Linked DNA regions of Homo sapiens: regions 2, 3, 4 and 5 are each linked to region 1. The links come from fine-mapping of genetic effects on gene expression. A gene starts in region 1. Each other region holds a variant in brackets. All regions are shown on one strand. Distances are between the middles of the regions.

The links. PIP is the estimated chance that this variant, and not a neighbour inherited with it, causes the effect.
Region 2: its variant is the best candidate, but not a certain one, in a credible set for the expression of CD302 in whole blood (TOPMed, PIP 0.55).
Region 3: its variant is the best candidate, but not a certain one, in a credible set for the expression of CD302 in whole blood (INTERVAL, PIP 0.58).
Region 4: its variant is the best candidate, but not a certain one, in a credible set for the expression of CD302 in Th17 cells (Schmiedel 2018, PIP 0.77).
Region 5: its variant is the best candidate, but not a certain one, in a credible set for the expression of CD302 in whole blood (TOPMed, PIP 0.83).

What each region holds. Positions count from the first base shown.
Region 1 is chr2:159,795,695-159,799,897 of GRCh38, forward strand. CD302 (CD302 molecule) reads right to left here and starts at 2,514. Exons shown (of 6, transcript NM_014880.5): 1 at 2,438-2,514. The coding sequence starts at 2,504. All of the region lies in intron 33 of LY75-CD302 (LY75-CD302 readthrough), which reads right to left. It overlaps LOC124906083 (a long non-coding RNA gene), which reads left to right. Exons shown (of 2, transcript XR_007087273.1): 1 at 1-2,258; 2 at 3,125-4,203.
Region 2 is chr2:159,735,916-159,739,915 of GRCh38, forward strand. All of the region lies in intron 4 of MARCHF7 (membrane associated ring-CH-type finger 7), which reads left to right. Among named protein-coding and RNA genes, the nearest start is that of MARCHF7, 25 kb to the left of the region's middle. RefSeq lists an enhancer at 1,674-2,666. The variant C/T (reference allele first, on the strand shown) is at 2,349.
Region 3 is chr2:159,662,116-159,666,318 of GRCh38, forward strand. It overlaps a transcript of BAZ2B not described here. Among named protein-coding and RNA genes, the nearest start is that of BAZ2B, 48 kb to the left of the region's middle. The variant CTTTTTTTTTT/C (reference allele first, on the strand shown) is at 1,740.
Region 4 is chr2:159,763,314-159,767,313 of GRCh38, forward strand. MARCHF7 (membrane associated ring-CH-type finger 7) reads left to right here. Exons shown (of 12, transcript NM_001282805.2): 11 at 1,313-1,361; 12 at 3,971-4,000. Among named protein-coding and RNA genes, the nearest start is that of CD302, 33 kb to the right of the region's middle. The variant G/GT (reference allele first, on the strand shown) is at 1,530.
Region 5 is chr2:159,857,904-159,862,106 of GRCh38, forward strand. It overlaps LY75-CD302 (LY75-CD302 readthrough), which reads right to left. Exons shown (of 38, transcript NM_001198760.1): 15 at 2,918-2,986; 16 at 459-573. LY75 (lymphocyte antigen 75) reads right to left here. Exons shown (of 35, transcript NM_002349.4): 15 at 2,918-2,986; 16 at 459-573. Among named protein-coding and RNA genes, the nearest start is that of LY75, 45 kb to the right of the region's middle. The variant C/T (reference allele first, on the strand shown) is at 1,645.

The DNA of each region.
Region 1 (4,203 bases):
AGGTGTTGGAGTACCCAGATACTGTTTACTCTGTGGATACACAGAGTGAATGGCAGGAAGGGTGGTAAGAGATGACATCAGGGAAGAAGGCAGAGGCACCTCATCTAAGGCTTGTAGGACATGGCAATTCAAAATCCCTAGATTCTGATCCACATGATGATCACAGAATGAGGACTTACTCGGAACATGCTTGTTCACTCAGCTCATGCCAGGCATAGGAAACCACTGACCAAATAAATACATACTGATCATCTATTATGTGCTTAAGCACCCTTACGGAAAAACTTTTTAAAGCGATGCCATGGATTTTCACTCAGGAATTTAAAGAATGTTTTGTCCACTGTGATTTTCAAAATAATAGCTAAGAACAAGGTTAAGATCACTTCACTAATAACCTCCAGAATGACAGACAATAACAATGATTTCCGTTTCAACATCACATTTATATGCAATACCCATATTTATTATGCAACATCATAAGAGCTTTTCTATTAAGATCTTGGTATTCAGCAACAAACTCTTTCTTGACTTAGTTCTAAGCCAAATATGACCCCTGATCTTGCTTGGATGGGAGATTTGTAAAGTATTATGAAAAACACACTTAGTTTTTCAGCCCTATAACATTAGCATACATATGAATGTGTTCAGTAACCATAAACATCCAATATACATAAGGTGGTATTCATACGTTTTCTGGTTGCAACAATTACCCTTCATTTTGTATGAAGAGAATAAAGGGAAGGAAACCAAGATGAACCACGCCTGTAATAGGGACTAGACGTGGAGTTCCCACTTAATGCTCCCAATAGCCCCATGAGTAAGTATTATCTCTGTTTTACTGAAGTGCAGATAAGTTGGTTAACTAGCTAGGTCAAAGCTCACACTCATTTCCAAATTAATCCTTAAAGCTTCCTGACTGGGAGGAGCTGATTAATTAACATTAATTTATTCATCATGCACTTTTCTAAAGCTCTTGAAAAGCCTATTGATCCACACTGGACTTATCAAAGGAAATGCACAAAAATTTCCAAAGGGAAATTTGCCCTCTATTGCTGGTCAAAACAGCTTCACTGAAGAAGAGACATACCAAAATCTAGAAACTGATTTTCTTTAAAAGTCTGACAAGAAAGAAAAATCTGACAAGAAAATTCGACTAGCCTAAAGTACAAATGCACAGCCTCGCAGAGGGTGGTTTACATGAGAGTTGAGATGTTACTGGCTCGCAAAATGAGGGTGTGCAGAAGGAGGGTTCAGAGACAGCCCAGCTTTGTCTTAGACAAAATTAATGTTCCCAGTCTGAACAATGTGAACATGGGCACATCTTGTTTCTGCCCCTTTGATAGGCAGCAGATGTCACAACCAGTCATAAATGCAGGTCCACAGAAGTTTTCAAGAAAGGAACCTTGGGTTTGTATCCAAGTTCTGAGCTGCTGCTGCCTCCAACACTGAGGTCCACTGAAATATTCCTGTCAGTAGACTTCGAGCAGGCAGTTATTATAAAAACGCAGTGAAATCTGGGGCAAGGGGTGGGGGGGGGGAATCTCTTGCATTTTATTTAAATCTCTTGCACTTTATTTAAGCCCACACAAGTACTCATTTAGTTCTTGTTTATTTTGCTCTTTAATTCCTGGAATTATTCAGTCAGTGGTGTTTTTGGAAGTCTGTGTTCTCCAGAGTCTCCCCATCCACATATTTTTGACATGCTTGTATGGAAATTTTTTAAAAATAAAGACCACGGTCAATAGAATTGTGCATTTTCCTCACGAGTCGTTTTGTAAATGAATGATCACGTGTGTGATTTTTCAGATGTCACTTGCACAACAGCAGACTAGAACTTTAAAACTCCTTGATTTCAGTGAAATCCAAGCTTTGCCTATTCCCGTTCCTCTTCCATCCAGGGGTTATTTGGCTGAACTGTTTTCCTGTTTAAACAACTTGAACACCAACCAACTAGACAAACAGCGCTGCTTGCAAAAGAGGGCCTACTTCCTCCGGCCCCCACCCCCATCCCAGCAACCCCACTCCGGCCGCGCACCAGCAGGGGAAATCGCCACCAACGTCCCCGCTTCTCATTTCAGCCCGAAATTGCCCTGAAACGGCGCCCGTCGTGCGACTCCAAGTCCCTCAGTTCTCCGGCCAACTGGCCTAATTTGGGGGTTCCCTCCCCGCGGAGTGGGGTCTGCGGTGAGGATGTGGACTCCGAGGAAGACAGAGCCCTCCCTTATTCTCGGCCACCTCCCCTCCCCGAGGGCAGGCGGGTGAGAGGTGACCCGGAGCCAGGACCCACGGGGGACGGGCGTGCAGGGAAGGGCGGGATGGCCGGCCGGGTGTTGCGTCTGCGGGCCGCCCTCGGGTGCGCGGGGACGAAGAGCGTGCGTTGGGAAGGGGGCGAAGGCGGTCGCGCACGGTCCCGGCGAGGGACTACGTAAGGGCTTACCCGCGACGGCAGCAGCGGCGAGGCCCAGCAACGGCAGCAGGAGCGCGGGCAGCGCGGCCCGGAGCATGACGGCGGGTGCGGGTGGGCGGCAGCGGCTGCGCGGCCGGAGAGGAGCGGGGCGGGGCGGGAGCGGGGGCGGTGCTTCTCGCGTGCGAGTTTAATCCCCCCCCCGGGCGGAACGTGAACGGCACTGGGGGCTCCCACCAGGAGAACCCGGGTGTCCCGTCCCGCAGGAGCGGCTGGCGCGCGGCCTTCTGGAACTTCTAATTTTTGTTTTTTAAACTTTTCATTTGAATTGAAATAATTTAGGACTTTCGAAAATGTTGCAAAAACAGCACAAGAGATTTCCGTAACCCTTCAGCCAGCTTCTCTAAATATTGACATTGTATATAACGCCAGTGCAGTGATCAAACACAGGGCACTCGCACTGGGATAATGCGATTAGCTAATCTACAGCACTTACCACATTTCATTAATTGCCCCTCTAAGGGTCCTTTTCTGTTCCAAGATTCAATCCAGGATCATACATTGCATGTCGTGTCTCCTTAGTCTCCCTTTAATCTAGGACGGTTCTCTGTCATTCTTTTTCTTTCACGATCAAACCACATTTAAAAAGTACTGGCCAGTCGTTTTGTAGAATGTCCCTCAGTTTCATTTTGTCTGACATTTCCTTCTAATTGGATTCAGGTTGCGCTTTTTTGGGAAAGAGTTCCCCAGAAGTGATGTACGTGCTCGAGAAGGACAAGATGTCGATGTCTCATCACTGATGTTAACTTGGATCAGTTGGTTAAGGTGGCGTTTGCCAGCCTTCTTCTTTGGATCTACTGGCCAGAATCCTCCTTTTCAAAGACCCCTTTCAGTGGACTATGTCTCTTAGACAACTTTTCTCTGTTACCAGCTCCTGGATGAAGAGTCTTTAAGCTATGTTTGCTACAATGTATGCATAAACTGTGCAATTATACTTCACCCATGAGGGCCTCTGGACAACACTAGCCAGGGTCAAGCAAGGGTGCTTGTTTAAGCCTCATGTCATTGGCAAAAGAGTTCTATAAAATCAAGTCTAAACTCAACAACGTGAAAACAAATGACCCAGTTAAAAAAAATGGTCAGATGATCTGAATACACACGTCATCAAAGAAGTTATATAATGGCAAATAGATGAAAAGATGCTCAACATCATATGTCATTGCTGAATTGTATATGAAAACAAAAATGAAATACCACTACATACCTATTAGATACCAGAATCCAAAAACACTGACAAGACCACATGCTGGCAAAGATGTGGAGCAAAAAGAACTCTCATTCAATGCTGGTGCAAATGCAAAATGGTACAGCCACTTTGGAAGACAATTTGGAAGCTTCTTCCAAAACTAAACGTACTCTTACCATACCATCTAGCAATCACAACTCCTTGGTATTTATCCAAATGAGTTAAAAACTTACATACACACAAAAACCTGCACATGAATGTTGATAGCAGCTTTATTCATAATTGCCAGAACCTAGAGGCAAACAAGATGTCCTTCAATAAGTGAATGGATAAACAATGGCACATCCAAACAATGAAATGTTACTCAGTACCAAAATTAAATGAGCTATCAAGCCACAAAAAGACATGGAAGAACTTTAAATATGTATTGCTAAGAGAAAGAAGCCAATCTGAAAAGACTGCATACTATATGATTCCAACTATATGACATTTTAGACAAGGCAAAACTATGGAGACAGTAAAAAGATAAATGGTTGCCAGGGGTTGGGGTGGG
Region 2 (4,000 bases), 60 kb before region 1:
CCAGGAGTACAAGACCAGCCTAGGCAATATAGTGATAGCCCATCTCTAAAAAAATTTCAAAACTAACCTGATATGGTGGTGCACACCTGTAGTCCTAACTTTTTGGGAGGCTGAGGTGGAAGGATCCCTTAAGCTCATAAGGTTGAGGCTTCAGTGAGCTATGATGGCACCACTTCACTACTGCTTGGGCCATAGAGTGAGACCCTGTCTCTTAAAATAAGGGAATGGAATTGCCGAGTCATGCATAACCTCTGTGTTCAATCGTTTGGGGAACTGCCATACTGTTTTCAAACTGGCTAGATCATTTTACATTCCCTTTTGTGTGTATGAAGATTCCAGTCTCTCCACATTCTCATCAGCACTTATCTTACTTTCTGATTCTAGCCATCCCAATGGGTATGAAGTGGTATGTATCTCATTGTGGTTTTGATTTGGATTTCCTTGATGACTAATGATGTTATACATCTTTTCATGTGCTAATTGGCCGTTTACTGTACATTTTTCAGAAATGCCTATTTATAATAGTTCCTTTGCTCATTTTAAAGTACACTTGTCTTGTTACTCAGTTGTAAGTGTTCTTTATATATTCTAGATACAAGCTCCTTATTGGATACATGATTTGCAAATATTTTCTCCTTAAGTTTTTTTATTTTTTTAATTGCATTGTTTTAAGGGCATTTGTGTTGGGAAAATATTTTAAAACCTTAGAAATAATTTTCTGAAAGCAAATATTGACTTATACAATAGTAATAGTAAATGATTTCATTGACTATACTTCCAGTAAACCTCTTGTTGGAAAGGTGGTATGAATAACTATTATGAAGGTAAAAAGAAATAAAATGAAAATTGGATGCCTGCTAGTTATATAAAGTCTTGGAAAGTTATTTTCTATTCATTGTGCATAGAGTATCTATAGCTATTAAGTCTCCAAGCTGTCTTATTGATGATTTCTCAGATACACTATATAGTATTTCAGCTACTTTGGTTGGGCTAGATAGCCCTCCACCTCTTCCCTCATTTTATTGAGTTATAATTCATATACCATACAATTCACCATATCACAGATAGCCTTTTGAATTGGAAATAACTGATGAAAACTATTTACTCTGGGAGCCAAATCTGTTACCTGTCTGGGTAGAGACTGGAAAGTTAATGAAAAAGAAAGAAACCTCTTTAAACTCCAGTGTAAATTTAGTTGCTTCCATCTAGTTTCATACGAGTGCTCATAGTCGGGAGGCAGGAAATGCAAAAAAAGATTGATTAGTTTTCATAAAAATTAAAATTTGTGTGCATCGATACCAAGAGAGTGAAAAGACAATCCACAGAATGAGAGAAAATATTTGCAAAGTATATATCTTACTGGATACTGAGACTTGTATCCAGAATATATGAAGAACTCTTACCTCTCAACAATAAAAATATAACCCAATTTCAAATGGGCAAAGGACTTTAATAAACATTTTTCCAAAGATATATTAATGGCTGATAAGCACATGAAAAAATATTAGTCATTAGGGAAATGCAAGTCAGAACTACAGTGAGATACTTAACACCCACTAGCATAGCCAAAATAAAAAAGATGGATAGGCTGGGCACAGTGACTCATGCCTGTAATCCCAGGCCTGAGTTGGGAGGCCAAATCTGGGAGGATTGCTTGAACCCAGGAATTTGAGACCTGTGCAACATAGTGAGACCCAGTCTCTACCAAGAAATAATTTAAAAATTAGCTGTGCATGGTGTCGCATGCCTGTAGTCTCAGCTACTCTGGAGGCTGAGGTGGAAGGATTGCTTGGGCCCAGGAAGTCAAGGCCACAGTCACCTGTGATTGCATCACTGCATTCTAGCCTGGGCAACAGAGCTGAGACCCTGTCTCAAAATTAAAAAAAAAGATGGACAATCACAGTGTTGGTAAGTGGTGGAGAAATTGGAACCTTCATACATAGTTGATGGGACTGTAAAATGGTACAGCTGTCAGCACTTGGAGTGTTGCTTTTCCAGCTAGAAGCCTCTGTGGCTGGTGGTGCCTTTGCCCAGGTTTTGCTCGGGCCTGCTGGGTGTGTTCTGCCTACTCGGACTGGCAGGCTTTGTTCGACTCGTGCTATCAGCTCGGATCCCACGCCTGCCAAGGGTGAGCCAGACATGGATCGGCAGGGGGTGCATGGGCAAGTGAGCGCAGGGTCCGGCCACCGTTTACAGCCAGGCACACTGGGTGCAGTGGGGCAGGCAGCTCTAGGCACTGGTGCCCTATGAGGCTGTGGATGGATCAGGTGTACCACAGGCAGCAGCTTCTGTGGGCACTGAGGAACGCAGTGGCACCCAAAAGCTTGGAGACACAAGGAACTACAGAG[C/T]CCCAAAGAGGTTGTCACAGCCCTGGTTCAGGGAGCTCCTAGGTCTGGACTCCCCAAAGGGTCAGAGCTCTTCCGTCCTTGTCGCCGGCAGCATGGTGAGTGGGGGGTAGGAAGGGATGTTTCAGCACTGTTTGTGTTACAGCTCTTCGAGTCCCACCATTTGGCGGGTCCCGAGTTCTTGTCCCACGTCCAGAGAGAATGAGGTACACAGACAGTTGGAGGGTTAGCAAGGCGAAGAGGGGCTTTATTGAGCAGTAGCACAGCTCTCAGGAGACCCAAAGTGGGTGGCTCCTTTCCACAGGCAGGTCATCCCAACGAGTGTGTAGCTTTCAGTGGAGAGGAGACCAGACAGGAGTGGGTAGCTCCTGTCCATAGGGAAGTCAGCCTGACATCTGGCTGAGTCAGATTTTCATGGGCTTCAGAGAAGAGGAAGTGCATGCTGATTGGTCCATGGGAGGCAATGGGTGGGCCTGGGATAAGCACCATAAGTTCTCACTCCGGTCCGTGGAACTGGCAGCCCAGCCTCCAGGCTTCAGGCCATCCCAGGCTTAAAGGTAGGGTTTCACTAGGGACCTGCCCCTTTTCACCCAGGAGCATGTCTGCCTCCTGCTACTGTTCATGGCACCCAGGCTGTTTGTGCCAAGGGATGCCTGCAGACCCATGCCAAGCCACCCTCAGTTCCCCCTTGGCTTCCCTTTGTGCTTGTTGGTGCCCAAAGTCCAGACGGGGGCCAAGGTAGCAGTGGGCTGGTGTGTCGGCACTGCCCCAAGCATGCGCATACACACCTGGATCGTGACAGTGCCCAAGCTTGGCCAAAACTTTGCTCCAAAATCGGAGCAGGAGGCGGGGGCGGGAAGGGAGGCTTCTCAGGCCCCTGAGAGCACAGGGATACCCAAGTCTACAGCCACAGCTGGGTCAGGGAGCACAGGGCTCCCACCCCACCAACTTGGAAGTGGTCAGGGCTCCCACCTGTTGCTGACTCTGTGGAGCGCACAGACCCTGCCACGCCTCCCCTGCTGCAGCCGGCGTCTTTGTGGCAGCCGCTCCAGATGAACTGCTGCTGCCATCACAGCTGTTAGCATCAACCTATAGTTGGAAAAATAGTAATTCCCCCAAATATCAAACATCAAGTTACTACATGATCTATCAGTTACACCCAAGAGTATTGAAAACATACATCCATACAAAAATTTACAGTTGTTCATAACGGCATTGTTTATAAGTGAAAACAACCCCAAAACTACTTGTTTAAGGATTCGTCATGCCCAATGTGGTATACTTTGAAGACAGACTTATTCCCTGATTTCATTTGGCCTATAGTTCTGGACAGCAGAAGAGATAATACATTGTTAAATGAATCTGACACTTTATTTAATTGTTCAAAGAATTCCGAGGGAAAAAAACAATTGCTTCAGACTGAGGATATTTGAACAAATATGGACAAAATTGGATTGTAGGAACCAGGAAAAGGTTTGATTTTGAACTCAAGCCAATAGCAAAACTAACCAAAACATTCCTTCTATATACTGACATTATGTATACTGATATGTATATCTATATGCTGATATTAACAAACATTTTTTGTCTTGGATATAGCCATATAATCTACATGTTGTGTCGTGAGTCATGAAAATTGTTTAATGAACAGTGAG
Region 3 (4,203 bases), 130 kb before region 1:
GTTGCTTTCACTTGGCATGTTATCAAGGCTCATCTGCACTGTAGCATGCACCACTATTCCTTTTTGTTGGCCAAAAATAATATTCCATTGGATAGATTATACCACAATTTGCTTATTGATCTGTTGATGGACATTTAGTTCTTTCCACCTTTTGGCAATTGTATATAGTACTACTATAAACATTCATGCACAAGTATTTGTTTGGGTATCTGTTTTTAATTATTTAAGGTATATACCTAAATGTAGAATTGTTTGGTTATATGGTATTTCTATGTTTAGCTTTTTCATGTACTGCCAAACTGTTTTCCACACAGTGGCTGAACCACTTTACATACCTGCCAGCACCATATGAGAGGTTCCAATATTTCCACATTCTCACTGGTTCTTGTTTTTTACTTTTGTTTGTTTGTTTCGCTTTGTTTTGTTTTTGAGATGAAGGCTTGCTGTAGCCCAGGCTGGAGTGCAATGGCGTGATCTCTGCTCACTGCAATCTCTGCTTCCCGGGCTCAAGTGATTCTCCTGCCTCAGCCTCCCGAGTAGCTGAGATTACAGGTGCCCACCACCATGCCCGGCTAATTTTTTTTTTTTGTATTTTTAGTAGACATGGGGTTTCACCATGTTGGCCAGGCTGGCTTTGAACTCCTGACCTCAAATGATCCACCTGCCTCAGCCTCCCAAAGTGCTGGGATTACCGGAGTGAGCCACTGCGCCCAGCCCTTACTTTCGGTTTTTAAACAGCCATCCTAGTGGTTGTGAATTAGTATCTTATTGTCATTTTGATTTTCATTTCCCTGATGGCTAATGATGTTGAACATAATTTCATGTGCTTATAAACCATTTATATACCTTCTTTAGATAAATATGTATTTTGATTCTTTGTCCATTTTTTAAAATGAGCTTTTTATTGAATTGTAAGTGGTATTTATATATTCAAGATACAAGTTTCTTATTAAATGTATGATTTGCAAATATTTCTCCCATTCTGTTGGTGGTCTTTTACCTTTTTGATGGTGACCCTAGGACAAAAGTTTTAACATTGGCAAAGTCTAATTTATCTAATTTTCTTTTGTTGTTGTTTTTTTTTTCTTTTTTTTCTTTTTTTTTTTGAGACAGAGTCTCACTGTCGGCCAGGCTGGAGTGCAGTGGCATGATCTCAGCTCACTGCAACCTCCGCCTCCCAGGCTCAAGCAATTCTCCTGCCTCAGCCTCCCAAGTAGCTGGGATTACAGGTGTGTGCCACCACGCCCAGCTAATTTTTTGTGTTTTTAGTAGAGATGCAGTTTCACTATGTTGGTCAGGCTGGTCTCAAACTCCTGACCTCAGGTGATCCTCCCGCCTTGGCCTCCCAAAGTGCTGGGATTACAGGTGTAAGCCACCACGCACAGCCTGTTGCTAATGTTTTTTTTTTTTCTTTTTTGAGATGGAGTCACACTCTGTCACCCAGGCTGGAATGCAATGGCGTGGTCTGGTTTTGGCTCACTGCAACCTCTGCCTCCTGGGTTCAAGCGATTCTCCTGCCTCAGCCTCCCGAGCAGCTGGTATTACAGGCACATGCCACCACGTCGGCTAATTTTTGTATTTTTGGTAGAGACGGGGTTTCACTATGTTGGCCAGGCTGGTCTTGAACTCCTGACCTCGTGATCTGCTTGCCTTGGCCTCCAAAAATGCTGGGATTACAGGTGTGAGCCACCGGGCCCGGCTGCCTGTTGCTAACTTTTAAGAAACTGTCAAACCATTTT[CTTTTTTTTTT/C]TTTTTTTTTTTTTTTTTTTTTTAATTATACTCTAAGTTTTAGGGTACATGTGCACATTGTGCAGGTTAGTTACATATGTATACATGTGCCATGCTGGTGCGCTGCACCCACTAACGTGTCATCTAGCATTAGGTATATCTCCCAATGCTATCCCTCCCCCCTCCCCCGACCCCACCACAGTCCCCAGAGTGTGATATTCCCCTTCCTGTGTCCATGTGATCTCATTGTTCAATTCCCACCTATGAGTGAGAATATGCGGTGTTTGGTTTTTTGTTCTTGCGATAGTTTACTGAGAATGATGGTTTCCAATTTCATCCATGTCCCTACAAAGGACATGAACTCATCATTTTTTATGGCTGCATAGTATTCCATGGTGTATATGTGCCACATTTTCTTAATCCAGTCTATCATTGTTGGACATTTGGGTTGGTTCCAAGTCTTTGCTATTGTGAATAGTGCCGCAATAAACATACGTGTGCATGTGTCTTTATAGCAGCATGATTTATAGTCCTTTGGGTATATACCCAGTAATGGGATGGCTGGGTCAAATGGTATTTCTAGTTCTAGATCCCTGAGGAATCGCCACACTGACTTCCACAATGGTTGAACTAGTTTACAGTCCCACCAACAGTGTAAAAGTGTTCCTATTTCTCCACATCCTCTCCAGCACCTGTTGTTTCCTGACTTTTTAATGACTGCCATTCTAACTGGTGTGAGATGATATCTCATAGTGGTTTTGATTTGCATTTCTCTGATGGCCAGTGATGATGAGCATTTCTTCATGTGTTTTTTGGCTGCATAAATGTCTTCTTTTGAGAAGTGTCTGTTCATGTCCTTCGCCCACTTTTTGATGGGGTTGTTTGTTTTTTTCTTGTAAATTTGTTTGAGTTCATTGTAGATTCTGGATATTAGCCCTTTGTCAGATGAGTAGGTTGCGAAAATTTTCTCCCATTTTGTAGGTTGCCTGTTCACTCTGATGGTAGTTTCTTTTGCTGTGCAGAAGCTCTTTAGTTTAATTAGATCCCATTTGTCAATTTTGGCTTTTGTTGCCATTGCTTTTGGTGTTTTGGACATGAAGTCCTTGCCCCATCGTCTCAGCCCAAAATCTCCTTAAGCTGATAAGCAACTTCAGCAAAGTCTCAGGATACAAAATCAATGTACAAAAATCACAAGCATTCTTATACACCAACAACAGACAAACAGAGAGCCAAATCATGGGTGAACTCCCATTCACAATTGCTTCAAAGAGAATAAAATACCTAGGAATCCAACTTACAAGGGATGTGAAGGACCTCTTCAAGGAGAACTACAAACCACTGCTCAAGGAAATAAAAGAGGACACAAACAAATGGAAGAACATTCCATGCTCATGGGTAGGAAGAATCAATATCGTGAAAATGGCCATACTGCCCAAGGTAATTTACAGATTCAATGCCATCCCCATCAAGCTACCAATGACTTTCTTCACAGAATTGGAAAAAACTACTTTAAAGTTCATATGGAACCAAAAAAGAGCCCACATCACCAAGTCAATCCTAAGCCAAAAGAACAAAGCTGGAGGCATCACACTACCTGACTTCAAACTATACTACAAGGCTACAGTAACCAAAACAGCATGGTACTGGTACCAAAACAGAGATATAGATCAATGGAACAGAACAGAGCCCTCAGAAATAACGCCGCATATCTACAACTATCTGATCTTTGACAAACCTGAGAAAAACAAGCAATGGGGAAAGGATTCCCTATTTAATAAATGGTGCTGGGAAAACTGGCTAGCCATATGTAGAAAGCTGAAACTGGATCCCTTCCTTACACCTTATACAAAAATCAATTCAAGATGGATTAAAGATTTAAACGTTAGACCTAAAACCATAAAAACCCTAGAAGAAAACCTAGGCATTACCATTCAGGACATAGGCGTGTCAAACCATTTTCTAAGGTGGATTCCATTTTACACGTCCACCATCAGTGTTTGCAAATTCTAGTTGGTGCACATCCTAAACAGCATCCCATATGGACATCTTTTTTAGTTTTAACAATTGTAATGTGTGTGAAATGGGTGTCTTTGGTTTTAATTTGCATTTCCCTGTTGACTAATGATGTTGGGCATATTTTCATGTGGTTATTTTCACATTCATGTATCCTTTTATGATGTACCTAGGCAAAACTTTTGTTCATTTGTTAAATGGGTCACGTTCTTCTTGTTATTGAGTTGTAAAAGTTCTGTTAATATCCTGCAAGCAAGTCCCAGTCCTTTGATATATATTTACAATATTGTTCCTCCATGCATGCACTGCATTTTCATTTTATTAAGTGTGTTTTCAAAGAGCAAAAGTTTTAAATTTTGATCTTTAAAAAAAGGCCAATTTATTATATTTTTTTATGATTCTTTTTTTTTTTTTTTTTTTTGAGACAGGGTCTCGCTCTGTCGCCCAGGCTAGAGTGCAATG
Region 4 (4,000 bases), 32 kb before region 1:
ATTATCACTTAGAAACCTGAAATTGAACTCCAAAAGCCAAAGAGTATGGGAAATTAACTTCAATTTATTTGTTACTGTTCTACAAAAGATTACCAGTGTACTAATTTTTAAGTGTCCATATTACAAAGTATTTTAGATATGGAATAGTTGGTTGTTTACTGTGTGTGCTATTAGCCATAATACAACATTTTGGCCAGCTGTATGTTAGGTATTTATAAGTAAATGATGCTCTTTGTGTCAGTGTACCAGAGGAAACTTTATGCTTTGCTGTCTGGGCCATTTTGTGTAGCAAGGGCTAGGGTCTCTATGTATCTGCCATTATTGTAGCATTCTGAACACTTCATGTCTTGAAATGTGTTCATAAGTATATCCTTCAAACTTTCTTACATGTTAACTTCGGTGATAAAAGTGTAGTAGAGTTCATGTAATGTTTTTATTTTGAAAATTATCAAATAACTGCAATTCAATGTATGTAATACTCCTTCTAAATTAGTAAAAAATTTTTCTTTATTTTATCATGTGGACATTATTCCAGTGAGCTGGTTAACAGATAATTACCATTGAAGAGCATTCATATTATCTATCAAGAGCATTCAGAATTTGAGCAAAGATCTCTTGACTTCTAAGTACTTTACAAATTGTGAGCCCCTAAAACCTTAATACCGTAAAATGATTTCTAAAAAGGTACCTTAAGTCTTCAGGATGAATAAACCATATAAAACATTTAAGAACTTCTGAATTCATGTGTTTTTAAAAGTTCATATTAACAAGTTTTACAGTGGAAAATTACAGAATTTTGGATGATACTCCAAAGTGGAAGTCATTAGGATTTTTTTTAATGTATAGAACTGTATACTTTTATCAAATTTAGGTAGGAAAATATTGGTTCTTGGGAGTTTTGTGTGTGTGTGTGTGTGTGTGTGTGTGTGTGTGTGTGTGTGTGCGCGCGCCCACTGAAACTGAATTTATTTGGGTCCAAATACAAGGGTGGTTTTTTGTTTTTTGTTTTTTTTCCTCCATTTCGTAATTTTTTGAAGTGTTTATAAGAAGACAATATCATTGGATAAAATTATTGTATCTGCTCCCAATTTTAAAAAACTGGTTTCTACATGATTATAAAGATTATATAAAACATTTAAAAATTAATGCCATTAAGCTTGTGATTTTTGATGTTAGGGGGAGAAAAACCCCTATTTAAAGGCTTAAACTGATGTTTGACTTTTTAAGTAGAAATGAATCTCCTATACTGATTCTCTCTTTAGATCCATTTGCAACATTTAAACTACTGTATTTCTTTCTGCATTGTTTCTAGTTTATTAACCTTGCAAGAACTCTTCAGGCACATATGGAAGATCTCGAAAGTAGGTGGAATTTCCCCTCCCCAGACTTGTTGAATTTACTTTTGCAAATTAAACCCAAAGCAAAACCTAAGTATATACTCTGTTCTGCCAAATTAGAGCTCATTTATAGGCTTAGTAATACCAAAATGATTGATTTGGGAAATATGGGTTGGGAAACTGACATTAGTT[G/GT]TTTTTTTTTTTAAGCATATTTTAAGGTATGGAAGCATGTAATTTTAACTGCATTTTACTTTTTTTTTTCAAAGAGAAATTTATTGTTGATCACCTTGATTTCAGGATTTATAATAAAAAAGGCATAAATCTTAACTACTAATCAAACCAACATTTCTTAATCTGTTAGGATTTTGTTTTGTTTCGTTTCTGGTAAGAAATTTTACCTGTTACTCAGGTTTGTTAGATCATAAGAGATTATTCCTGGGCTTACCTATGATTCCAGGAAAATATGGGACAAGGAGTCCTAATTCTGAATCCATATCAGAAGCCATGAAGGGCTTTGTTTTGTGGGTTTTTTGTTGTTGGTGGTGGTGGTAGTGGGTTTTTTTTTGGCTTTTTGTAGGTCCTCATGGACCTTTAATAGGTAGCCAGCTCTGCCAACAGCTCAAATCTCTTAAGATCACATTCCAGCATCAGGATTTCTGGCTGGGATTATAAGTGAAGGCACTTAATTCTCAAATCTCTACAGGCATCTATACAGCCTACCCTCTTCTTAATGTCCTGTAACTTCCAGTGTGCTTCATACCATGTGGGCATAGGTATTGGTGGCTCTGGAATAGTTTCTAGAAATTGAAGATTACCCCACCCAACCCCTACATATTTTACTTTTTCACCCTTTGTTGCCCATTCCAAAACACTATCCAAAGTGTCTTTTTAAAATACGTATTCTTCAGTTGAATACTTCTATACTCATCTTCAGACTATTTGGAGTGTTATCTATAGTGTGCATAACATTTTTACTTTTAGAGAAAGCTCAGCATCCTTTGAAGTAAGGTTTAAAAAGGACTTAGTCCTCATAGGAACTTTTTAATTCTAGATAATCTAAAACATAGATTTTTGTCATTGTCTATACTACTTTCAAGTTTTTAAAGGTTTTGAGATGAAACCAGGTAACATATTTTCACAGTTTTAATTAGGATATGTGAAAAGAAAGGAGTCAGTGTGAATTCACTTGGTATAAAATTTTTTCCCTTTATACCTTCTTTCAGATCCCTTAGGTTGGCCTAATACAAAGGTCTCTTCTTTGTTTTTTTAAATTACAATTTATACTTTGTCCAACGTCATGATAGTAATTTGTTTCAGTGTATGTTTTCCCCAGATTTCTCCATTTTAAAAAACTAACATTCTCGTTTAAAATTTAGTTTCTTAAACATAGTATTGTCTGCTCCTAACATGTGGGAAGAAAAAGATGGAGGTGAAATATGTCCATACTCAAATAAGCATGAAAGACAAGGGTGCTGCAAGTTAACCCCTAAATATCAGAGTATTAGTACATTCTGAAATGGGTTCTGACTAAATTATCCTCTCCTGTGGAGTGGAGTTAAATGGAAAAACACAAGAAGTTCCTTAATAAGCTGTAATTTTTTAGTTTGGTATTTCTCAGTGATAGAGCATAAAACTTAACAGTAGAGTTTATTATCAGTCATGACTTAGTTATATGCTTTGTCATTTATTAAATGGATTTAAATCTATTAGTGTTGCATAGTTTTTCTGTGCTTTGCCCTAGGTTGATTCCATTTGTTGGATGCTCTTAATTTGTCCAATGTAAATATAAAAAGAGAGGGCATTAAACCGTTTTGCCCTATAATGGGGGAAAGATGCTGGTTAGATGTTTATTTTAGTGAGCTTGCATTTTCTTACACGTGCAAAGCAGTTCATAGAATTCATAGTTTTACACTTACTATGTCTTTCCTAAAGACACCCAGGATGCTTTATTTTTAACTCTTGAGCCACTAGTGACTCTTGAATAAATTGAGGTCAGAAATGTTGCAAAAGTGGTAAGTTTCTGGCAGTGTGGAGACAGGGGAATAATCTCAACAGTAGGTTTTTACTGAATCCAATTATTTTAATTTAGGCTGTGTCTATATGAAGCTTTTTTGACTTACTAAATGAACTTTTATCTTGGCATTGTATAGACATAGCTTTGATGTAAATTGCAAGAACACCCATAACCTCTTATTCTATGTACACTTCTTTTCATTCTCATCGGATGCACCAAACATGCAGCGGTAATAAGCCAGATTTTACTCAGGTGTGTGAGAGCACTTGCCTTAAGTTGACTTTTTTCCTAGTGTTTATATATCATTAGCTACTATGAACACAGATTGATCTCAGAAACATTTTAGAAGATGCTCTTGAACCACATTTTTAAGCACTTTCATTTTTATAAAAATTGATATAACATTACAAAACGGTGTGGGGGCGGGGAGAATTGTGGTTGGGTATCACCCACAGGCAGACCACCCTAACCCTGTCATACAACTTATCATTTTGATCAAACAATATACTAAATTGGGATTTTTGTTTTTACAAGTCATTGCTGTTCTGGCTTCATATTTACACTTCCCATTCTTATCCCCCTTAAAATCATTCTTGATCATCCTGTTTTCTTTCAACAGCTTCAGAGGATGATTCCGAAGAAGACGGAG
Region 5 (4,203 bases), 62 kb after region 1:
TTATATAAAGTATTAGCAGTTTTATAGTTCATTGAAAATTGCTTCTAAATTTTACAGGGACCTGCCAAATTTTTATTTCTTGACTTCTGCCTTATTCTTCCCAAGATTATCTTTATTTTTTCATTTTGCATCAAAATAAAAACGAAAATGATTCTGCATTTCTCCTTTTGCTTAAAATAATATTTCATCCAAAATCTAATCTCCCTGAATGAGCCTCACATTTTATCTTCTATGCAAATTCTTCCATGATCAAAGAGTAAGATATCACTAAATTTCAATAAGCTAGCCTTCTATTAGAAGCCGGAGTCAGGCAGGGGGTGCTCCACATATTAATTGCATCATCATCATAGGCTTTTAGACATCAGAATTATAGATCAAAATGCTCCCCTAGCTACTTTGAGCTAGGCATTCACAATGTTAACATGAGAAGGTTGTGAAAAGGAATAACTACCACTTACCTTTTGGAATTTGGCACACCCATTCAAGTTTTGTATCACAAGCAAAAGGCCTCAAATAAATAAATTCTCTATCATCATAGAAATGCCAGCCTCTTCGCCATGGCCTATGAAATACCTATAAGAGGAAAAGTATTGCAGAATATTTTGAAGTTGATACATCCCTTATGGAACACTAAACTGTAAGCCCTATGACTTTGATCTCTATTTTAGCTCTAGCACCTAAGATATTTGTTCGATAAATGAACACATGAATTAATGGAATATTTAAACAGTAATACCCTGAGCAAGAGCCCTCAAAGGGGCTAACAAAGGAAATATGTTGTAAAGTCATGTTTATGTCCAAAATGCAAATTTTCTCCCCCACACCTGACAATTTTTGTTAGAATATTTATTTCAGAGGTATCCAAGCACCAAGCTGTGATCAAATTAGATCAGAAAGCGACATAAAGGTCCAGCCTCAGTGGCTCAGGCTCCTTCTCTGGTGTTACCATGCCATTTCTAGGATTTTGCCCTTCTCCACATGGTCCAGGATGGCTCATTACAAATTCCAGTCAGCAAGTAGGATAAAAAGGATAGGGGAAGGCATTACTTGGGAGAGACATCCATCACTTCTTAGACTATTTTCTCTTAAGACCAAGTTTCTGGGGGTTCTGTGGCAGGTGAGGTAAGATTTTCCTTACAGAACACTGCCCTGGCTGGGCTTGTTCCTGATGCAGGTTGCATTAGTATCTCTTTATTTATTTGGTAGATTTTCAAATCTCTCCATACTTGGCAACTCTATTTCCCTAGAACACAGTTTATTGTACCAGTGTTCTCAACACTACTAAAAATTCCATAAGCTTCTCTGAAGTTTTCACCTTTTCCTGTGTTACATTGGGAATTCTATAAAAATGACATGTACTACACAGTTTATTACTAGAAGAGTTACTTTGAAAACAGTGCTTTCCTGTGGTTTTGTCAGTTCTTATATCCCTCAGCCTTCCTGTAACATTTCTGGTCAGCCACCTTGTTGAATCTCTTTCTTGGACTACAAATCAAAGATATTAACTGATGTCTCCTCCATCTTCATCTTTTTTCACTCTATATATTGGCAGTTCCTCCAAATCCACTTCTTGGCCCTTTTTTTAAAAATATACATTTTCCTTTCAACTCAAGACTCTTGATCTCAACTTACCATAGCATACAT[C/T]TTATAGCTAGCTTGGATTCAAAATATCTGAACTAAAACATACAATTTTCTCATAAATCAATACCCTTTCTATTTCTATAAATGCCTAGTCATATAGCATAGTGGTTAAGAGTACCAGACCCAGACACACATGGGTGTAAATTTCAGTTCTTTCAGTTTAAATTTACTCCATGTAAGCTGGGGTAAATTACTCACAGCTCAAATTTCCATGTGAGATGAATACAGTAACAGTGCCTACCTCACAAGATTGCTTATGTGCTATGTGACATATGTGACATGCCTAGTATAGTGGCTGGCTCATAAAGGAGTTAATCAGTGTTAGCTGCTCCATCATCATCATCACCACCACCATGGACCATCACCATCACCATCCTTATTATTCTTTCATAATATTCTTGTTCTTGCATAAAACTTGTATTTCGCATGTCATAGTCTTTACTCAGTGGTGTTGTAATTGCTTGTTTACTTGTCTTTATTTCCTACTAGACTTTAGTTTTGTGAAGACAATGGCTATGCTTTGTACCTTGTCATTGTTCTATCACCCAGTGCCTCACTGACTCCTTGGACTGTTTATGAAATGGATACATGAATGCATTCTGCAAAGGAAGATGCCTCACTGGTCTTCTATGCCTTCCAATCTTACCTGTTGCTTTTGACATCTGTCTCAAGATGAATCTTCCTCATACCCTCCTTAGTTCATGTGACCCTCCCTACTCAGAAACTTTAAAAAATGCCCTGTTGCCTATCAAGAAGTGTAGAAATTCCTTAAAGTGGCATCAATCTGATTTCCTAATACTGTTATCAAGGACAGCACCAATGAAACTTCTTGATCTGTATTCTGTTCTCCACTGCCCTCTTCCACTTCCACCTTATTTTATACCACTTTCTCATACCATCCCCTCATGAAAAAACCTTACCCTATCCCATTTGTAGAAACTCTATCCATCCTTAAAGTCCCAGTTCAAGTCCCACCTCTTCCTGGGAAATGGCCATGGGACTCACTTTCTCCTCTGAATTTCATTAGCCTTCCTCAGCCCCCTCATTTGGAGCATATTACTGCGTGGTAATGAGAGAGGTTTTCTTGAATATGAATTTTATCCTCTCAAATGAAGTGTAAGTTAGGCTGCTGAGGGCCAGGCCATGGGTGTGCTTATCTCTCACTGCATCTAACATCATGCTTCACATAAAAAGACACTCCATGGATCTGTTACTTGACTGCATATGATGATGGACTTATGTTTTAAATATGCAGATTTTCCAGCATTGTACTGACCTTGACAGCAGCACAGTCTCTGATGTCATAATCCTGCTGAAACTCATTTGGCATGATAATAGTAGACACCTGAAAAGACAAGAGAGGCTTGAGAATTTAAGACTGATGTATAAATATTTGCAATTTAGATGTAATTTAGGCAGCCTTAATCACTCAAGTGCGTTGATATGCCACAGAAAGAAAACTTTTCCATCTCTTTTTTATATCATGATGCTAAATCATGAGAGGACTTAGCAAATGTCATAATGTCATAAGTTTCCAAACAAAGGAAGCCACAGTTTCAGAAGTGGAAGTTAATAGTGTATTAAGTTCGCCGCTGGAGTCATAGAGAATCAGGTTTGCAAAATACTTTTTTCTTTTTTTGCATGTGTTGAAATGCTCATTATTTGATTAACTAATCTCAGATATGCTCCAATTTGAAAATAAACTCAAGGAGTTTTACATTTAGAAAGAATAAAAAAGGAGGTGACATTGGAGTCACCAATTTTTGGTGACAAAAATTGGAGTAAATATTGAATATCTGAGAATAATTTTGCTCCTATAACTATTACACTAATATATCCTTATAATATAAATGTGGAATAATAGCAAGGATTTTCTAGAGGTTTCTCCAAACAAATAATTTCCTCCAATAAGGATACTTTTGGCCAGGCACAGTGACTCATGCTGGTAATCCCAGCACTTTGGGAGGCCAAGGTTGGCAGATGGCTTGAGCCCAGGAATTCGAGACCAGCCTGGGCAACATGGTGAAACCCCATCTCTACAAAAAATACAAAAATTAGCTGGATGTGGTGGCATGTGCCTGTACTTGAGAGGCTGAGACATGAGGATCAATTGAACCCAGGAGGTTGAGGCTGCAGTGAGTCATACTGGCACCACTGTATTCTAGCCTGGGTGACACAGTGAGACTCTGTCATCCCCACCTAGTCCCCCCAGAAAAAGATATTTTATTTTTTGTATAACTCTTCCATATTTAGATAATAAAAAGAAAAGCTTCTTACTATAAAAATGAAAATAAACAGTATAAAGAGAAAGCTTTGAAAACAATCACTTGTGGCCAGATGTGGCTCACACCTGTAATTCCAACACTTTGGGAGGCTAAGATGGGTAGACTGCCTGAGCTCAGGAGTTTGAGACCAGCCTGGGCAACATGGTGAAACCCTATCTCTACAAAAAAATATAAGAATTAGCTGGGCGTGGAAGGGCACGGTAGCTCACACCTGTAATCCCAGCACTTTGGGAGGCTGAGGCGGGTGGATCACAGGGTCAGGAGTTAGAGATCACCC